2 separate regions of the Homo sapiens genome follow, and region 1 is linked to region 2. The links come from fine-mapping of genetic effects on gene expression. A gene starts in region 2. The other region holds a variant in brackets. All regions are shown on one strand. Distances are from middle to middle. Region 1 overlaps AKNAD1 (AKNA domain containing 1). Region 2 holds the start of AKNAD1 (AKNA domain containing 1).

The links. PIP is the estimated chance that this variant, and not a neighbour inherited with it, causes the effect.
Region 1: its variant is fine-mapped to the expression of AKNAD1 in sigmoid colon (GTEx, PIP above 0.99).

The regions. Positions count from the first base shown.
Region 1 is chr1:108,829,603-108,832,520 of GRCh38, forward strand. It overlaps AKNAD1 (AKNA domain containing 1), which reads right to left. Exons shown (of 16, transcript NM_152763.5): 10 at 957-1,048. All of the region lies in intron 2 of LOC105378891 (a long non-coding RNA gene), which reads left to right. Among named protein-coding and RNA genes, the nearest start is that of AKNAD1, 26 kb to the right of the region's middle. The variant C/T (reference allele first, on the strand shown) is at 1,310.
Region 2 is chr1:108,855,349-108,858,266 of GRCh38, forward strand. AKNAD1 (AKNA domain containing 1) reads right to left here and starts at 1,746. Exons shown (of 16, transcript NM_152763.5): 1 at 1,581-1,746. It overlaps SPATA42 (spermatogenesis associated 42), which reads left to right and starts at 1,869. Exons shown (of 3, transcript NR_034168.1): 1 at 1,869-2,153; 2 at 2,810-2,918.

The sequences.
Region 1 (2,918 bases), 26 kb before region 2:
TTTTTAGCACGAGCTTCATGCAGTTTCTTTTTTCAGGGGTGGACACTCATTAGAACTCTTAAGGCAGGTGCCCATTCCCACAATGGAATGCTTTCTAACAGGAAGCCTCAGTCTTTCAGACCCTGTCATCTGCTTCTATTAGAATCCATTACGTACATATAACAGTGGTTGCTAAACACCTGCTGCCTCCCTGACTCTTGACCTTCCAAAGGTCAATGAGCCGAGCTTTGGCCGGAGTCCACAGTGAGCTTAGAGGTAACATCTCTCGCTACCTGAAAGAAGCTTCAAATAAATGATACTGAATCGACACAGATTAATAGTTGCACCAATGGGTGTTTCAAAAACAAAGGATTTCTCCTGAGGATTTTACATGATTTACAGCTTGTTAGCTCTGGAAGATTTCGTCCTTAGGAATGGGAAGAAATCAGCCCTGAGAAGAGGGATGAGGCTTGTTCCTGGGACTGGGGGGCTCAGGTGAAACCCAACAGAGAAGACTTTTGCTCATCATAAGGAGAGAGTAGGGATGGTGGGAGCTGTTTGTTATACAGGATAAGAATCCCCCATGTGGGCAATGATCAAAAGCCTACAGGACCACCCTCCGTGGGCTGTAACCATGATTCTTAACCAAGGGGGCTTATCGGAATCACCTGGGGAGATTTAAAAGCAATATTCCTACCAGAGCCCCACCGCTGGCGATGCTGAGACAGTAGGTGGGATGGAGGCATGTGCATGATTGTAAAATCTCCCATGGTGATTTTGATGGTCTCCCCAGTTGAGGACCACTGCTAGAGGATCTGTAGGGTGCGAGGGAGGCTGGGCTCTGTGCCCAGGCCTGAGATCTGTGACTCTATAACTCAGCCAGTGGCCTCAGTTAGTTGCCGCCCACTCTCACTGGAGTTACTATGCCAGGACTGACTCCAATCCACCCTGGGAATGTAGCCACAAGAAGCCCTCACCATTCAAGGAGCCTGCGACAGAAGGCACAGCTCGGACTGGGTGCCGTCATCTCTGCACAATCCTGCCTTCTTGGAGTGCCGTTGGGATCCTCCTGCGCCACAAAGCACACAGATGGAGATGTGATAGAGGATGTGACTCACGCCGCGGCTGCACACGCACAGCCCAGCAAGCAGCTGAGGTCCGGCTGAACTTGCCACCTCAGGCAGAGAGACTCGCCAAACCTCTCCTCCAGTTGGGGAAAGGGAGGCGCAGGGGGACAGGAGGGAAAGAAGAAAGAGCCCATCCTTAGTTCTGATGTGTCACTCAGTCGGGGCTGCGCCTCTAATGGCCTGGGCTGAAGAATGGAAGTTTC[C/T]ACCCTGGCTTGCTTCCTTCCTCCTCTAAACAGATTTTAAAATCTGGTGTACAGATGACAGAATACTCTCCCCTTTTTATCTTTCCCTTAGTTTCAAATTACTCCAAGCTTCGCCAGATAATGAACAGATTTAGGAACATAATTTTTAGATCTATTAATCTGACCGCTGGCTAGTAGAGCTCTAAAAGCCTTTCTAAATAAATATATTCAACTATGAATTAAAACAGGGTTTAGGGACTGTCTGGGGGCCTAAATGATTGGTTATATGTCCCTCTTTAACACAAAACAATTACTCCACTGACCTGTGAGGGCTGTTACCACCCACTGTGTATTTTTGACTAAGGTCTTACCCTTTATGTAAGTAAAAAATAAATGTACTTTTCCCATCATTATAAACAATGGCAGAAGCATCATTGTACACATAGCTTTTTCCACATCTTGGATTACTTCCTGAGGAAATGTCTGGGCCAAAGGTTGCGAACATGTTTGTGTGATGACCCATATTGCCAAATTGCTTTCCACAAAAGTTGTACAGATTTCACAGCCACCAACAGTGTGGACGGCTCAGTTTGACCACACCTTCCTCTGCATCAGGAATTATCACTTGAAAATGTTTCTGTTAATTGAAGGGAGGGGTGTGTCACCTTTTGTGTTAATTTGCATTTCCTCTGTGACTAAAGGAAATAAGTCTGTTCCTATATGCTGATTTATTGGTTGTATTTCCTACCTGTGACTTTTTTTTTTTTTTTTGAGACGGAGTCTCACTCTGTTGCCCAGGCTGGAGTGCAGTGGCCTAATCTCAGCTCCCGGGTTCAAGCAATTCTTCTGGCTCAGCCCCCCAAGTAGCTGGGATTACAGGTGCCCACCACTACCCCCAGCTAATTTTTTGTATTTTTAGTGGAGACAGTTTCACCATGTTGGCCGGGCTGGTCTTGAGCTCCTGACCTCATGATTCGCCCACCTCGGCCTCCCAAAGTACTGGGATTACTTTAATTGTGAGTAATTGTGTGAGCCACTGCGCCCGGCCTTACTTGTGACTTTTTAGCTCATGTCCTTTGTCCATTAATTTTCTTGGAGGGTTTCAGTGTTTTCCTGTTACCATTTGCTAGTTGTTCATGATGTGCCAGGTGCTTCCCTTATAGTCTCCTTAATACTTCCAACCATCCTGGCACGTTGTCGCCATTTTAATGGTGAGTGATCTGAGGCCTGGCGGATTTAAGCAATTTGGCAAGGTTGCATCATGAGTAAGTGGGAAAGCTGGGATTTTAACTTTTACCTATCTGACTGGTATGCTGTGTTCTTTTTTTTTTTTTTTTTTTTTTGAGATGGAGTTTCTCTGTGTTGCCCAGGCTGGAGTGCAGTGGCGCAATCTTGGCTCACTGCAACCTCCACCTCCCTCCCAATTTCAAGTGATTCTCCCACCTCAGCCTCCCTTCCAAGTAGCTGGGACTACAGGAACACACCACCCCACCCAGCTAATTTTGGTATGTCTTAGTAGAAACAGAGTTTCACCATGTTGGTCAGGCTGGTCTCGAACTCCTGACCTCAAGTGATCCACCCGCCTTGGCCTACCAAAGTGCTGGGATTACAGGCGCGAGCCACTGCACCC
Region 2 (2,918 bases):
GTTGCAGTGAGCCAAGATCGCGCCACTGCACTCCAGCCTGGCGATAGAGTGAAACTCCGTCTCAAAACAAAAAAGACATAATCTCTACAAGAACTTTAAGACAATTTTAAAACTCAATCTGTAAATAAATATATTTGAAGGTAAAAAAAAAAATCAGGCTGGATGAGGTGGCTCATGCCTGTAATCCCAGCACTTTGGGAGGCTGAGGCAGGTGGATCACTTGAGCTCAGTAGTTCAAGACCAGCCTGGCCAATGTGGCAAAACCCATTTCTACTAAAAATACAAAAATTAGTTGGGCATGGTGGTGCATCCCTATAGTCCCAGCTACTTGGGAGGCTGAGGCAGGAGAATCACTTGAACCCGGGAGGCAGAGGTTGCAGTGAGCCGAGATCATGCCGCTGTACTCCAGCCTGAGCAACAGCAAGACTCTGTCTCAAAAAAATAAAAAATAATAAATAAATAAATAAATCACTAAGCAAGTTTAAACAAAATATTGTCTAATTTTTTAGAACAAAAAAAAACAGAGTATCTTTTTTTTTTTTTTTTTAGACAAGGTCTCACTCTATCACCCAGGCTGGAGTGTAGTGACAACACCATGGCTCAACTGATCTTCCTCCCTTAGCCTCCTGAGTAGCTGGGACTACAGGCGCACACCACCACACCTGACTAATTTTTAATTTTTTTTTTAGAGATGGAGTTTCACCATGTTATTCAGGACGGTCTCGAACTCCTGAGCACAAGTAATCCACCTGCCTCAGCCTCCCAAAGTGCTGGGATTACAGACATGAGCCACTGTGCCTGGCCTGAGAGTATGTTTAAATGCCTACAGAGAGAATGGAAGAAGAAGAAAACAAATTCTAGTTTTGCAAGACTTTTAATGACCCAAGTATCAGTCCCAAAGTTATCCTCATGCTTTCTTTACATTTTCAGGAGCTCATTGCCAAACGCCATACCCTTCTTGTATAGAAAGGAAAGATACTTTGTTGGCCAAATTCCCACTTTTAAAATATAATTAATTAAAACTGATAAAATTTGAATTTTGCTCTGGCTCTCAAGAAAAAGAAAAAAAGTCCAGGCACAGTGGCTCATGCCTGTAATCTCAGCACTTTGGGATGCCAAAACAGAAGGATTCCTTGAGGACAGGAGTTTGAGAACAGCTTGGGCAACAAAGCAAGACCCTGTCTCTACAAAGAAAAAAAAAATTAAAAATTAGCCAGCAGTGGTGGTATATGCCTGTAGTCCCAGCAACTTGGGAGGCTGAGATGGAGGATCAGTTGAGCCCAGGAGGTCAAGGCTGCAGTGAGCAGAGATCATGCCACTGCACTCCAGCCTGGGTGACAGAGCAAGACCCTGTCTCTCTCTCTCTCTCTCACACACACATAAACACACACACACAAACACACACACAGACAAAGAAAGAAAGAAAGGAAAAGAAAAGGAGTGAGATACCATTAAGATAAACCAGAAACCTGAGGAACACTCTCATTACATACAGGAAAACAGCTTCTGTTGTTATTATTTTTTGCATGTGTGCATGCAAAATATCAAGAGGATTTTTTCTGGAAAAGGACAATCCATACCCTTAGCAAGGTAATGAGCTTCTTTGAGATAACTGGAGGAACTGGAGCATCTTCCCATGTCAACACTTGGCTCAATCTTGAAATCCAAAGGCATATCCAAAGAGGTTCCACTCAGAATCCAACAGAACCTTTCTGTAGAATCCAAATTGATTTTCTGAAGTCAGGTGACTACATTTGGGGCCACGCCTGCTTATGCAGCTATCTTGACCATTATGTGCTCAGCAATACCTCACAAGTCACTCTGAGATGAACACTTTGAGCAAACAGGGCCAGGACATCACAGTGACCCAGGCTGTGAAAACACTTCAGGCCAGTCCCTGAGTAGGAATGGACAACAAGGTGGTCACCATGCTGACAGCTATTCCCTGTGTGATTTACTTTATTATGAAGTCTAAATTTGATGCTGAAGTGCTAGCCTAAGCTCACTAACCTGCCAACTTAGAGAAGAAGGTAACCATGGCTAGGATGACTGGGAATCTGATGGACTCAATTAAGAATTTCTACAGATGGGAAAACCAAAACTCCTTAGTGGCAAGAGGCCAAAGATGGTCAGCGAATTGTTGTTTCCGGCTGGTAGGTGACATTTCTTCTATTCGCTAAGCCCATTTTGTGATAACACAGTTTTCCATATTGACAGGATTGTTTTCATCACCAAAGGAAAACCGTGGGTCCATGTTCCTGTGACAATCTCTTTGTCTCATTCCCAACACCCTCTGTTCTGTGTTTAAACCTCTACAAACCAGGCAAACTGGGGACTATGTGTAGGACCCAGACATGGAGGAGAAAGCAGGCATTGTTTCTACTTACCTTATCTGCCCCTCCACTAAGGTACCAGTTAGTACAACCACGTAACACTCACAAGTCCTACACTTCTAAGATCAGCCCTACTGACTTTGTCACGGTAAGAGTTGGCTGTTGGAGGCAATGATTCAACAATCTAAATTCTGATTATTCCTTTTTGTATCTGTCATTTAGAATGTGAATAGTGTACATCTAAAAGCTTTAAGTACATTATCCATCAATTTTTACTACACAAAGCAGTATGCTGCTCTGTCTTCAAACAGCACAATGCTACAGTCAACACAAAGGGCAAAACCATGGCAATATGGCAATTGCAATAGAAACTCACCAACATCTTGGAGTCTCTGGATATCACAGGTGAACAAGTTGAAGGGCCTTGCGACACAGACAAGCAACCCTTTAATTCTAAATCATCTTTTTTTCAACAGTTGGAAGTTGACTGCAGTTGAATAACAGAACAAAAACGGAGCTTCAAAATCATGGCGTGCCTGCTTCTTCTGGGTTCTTTTAACTGCAAGCAATCAGCTTTGAAGAGCA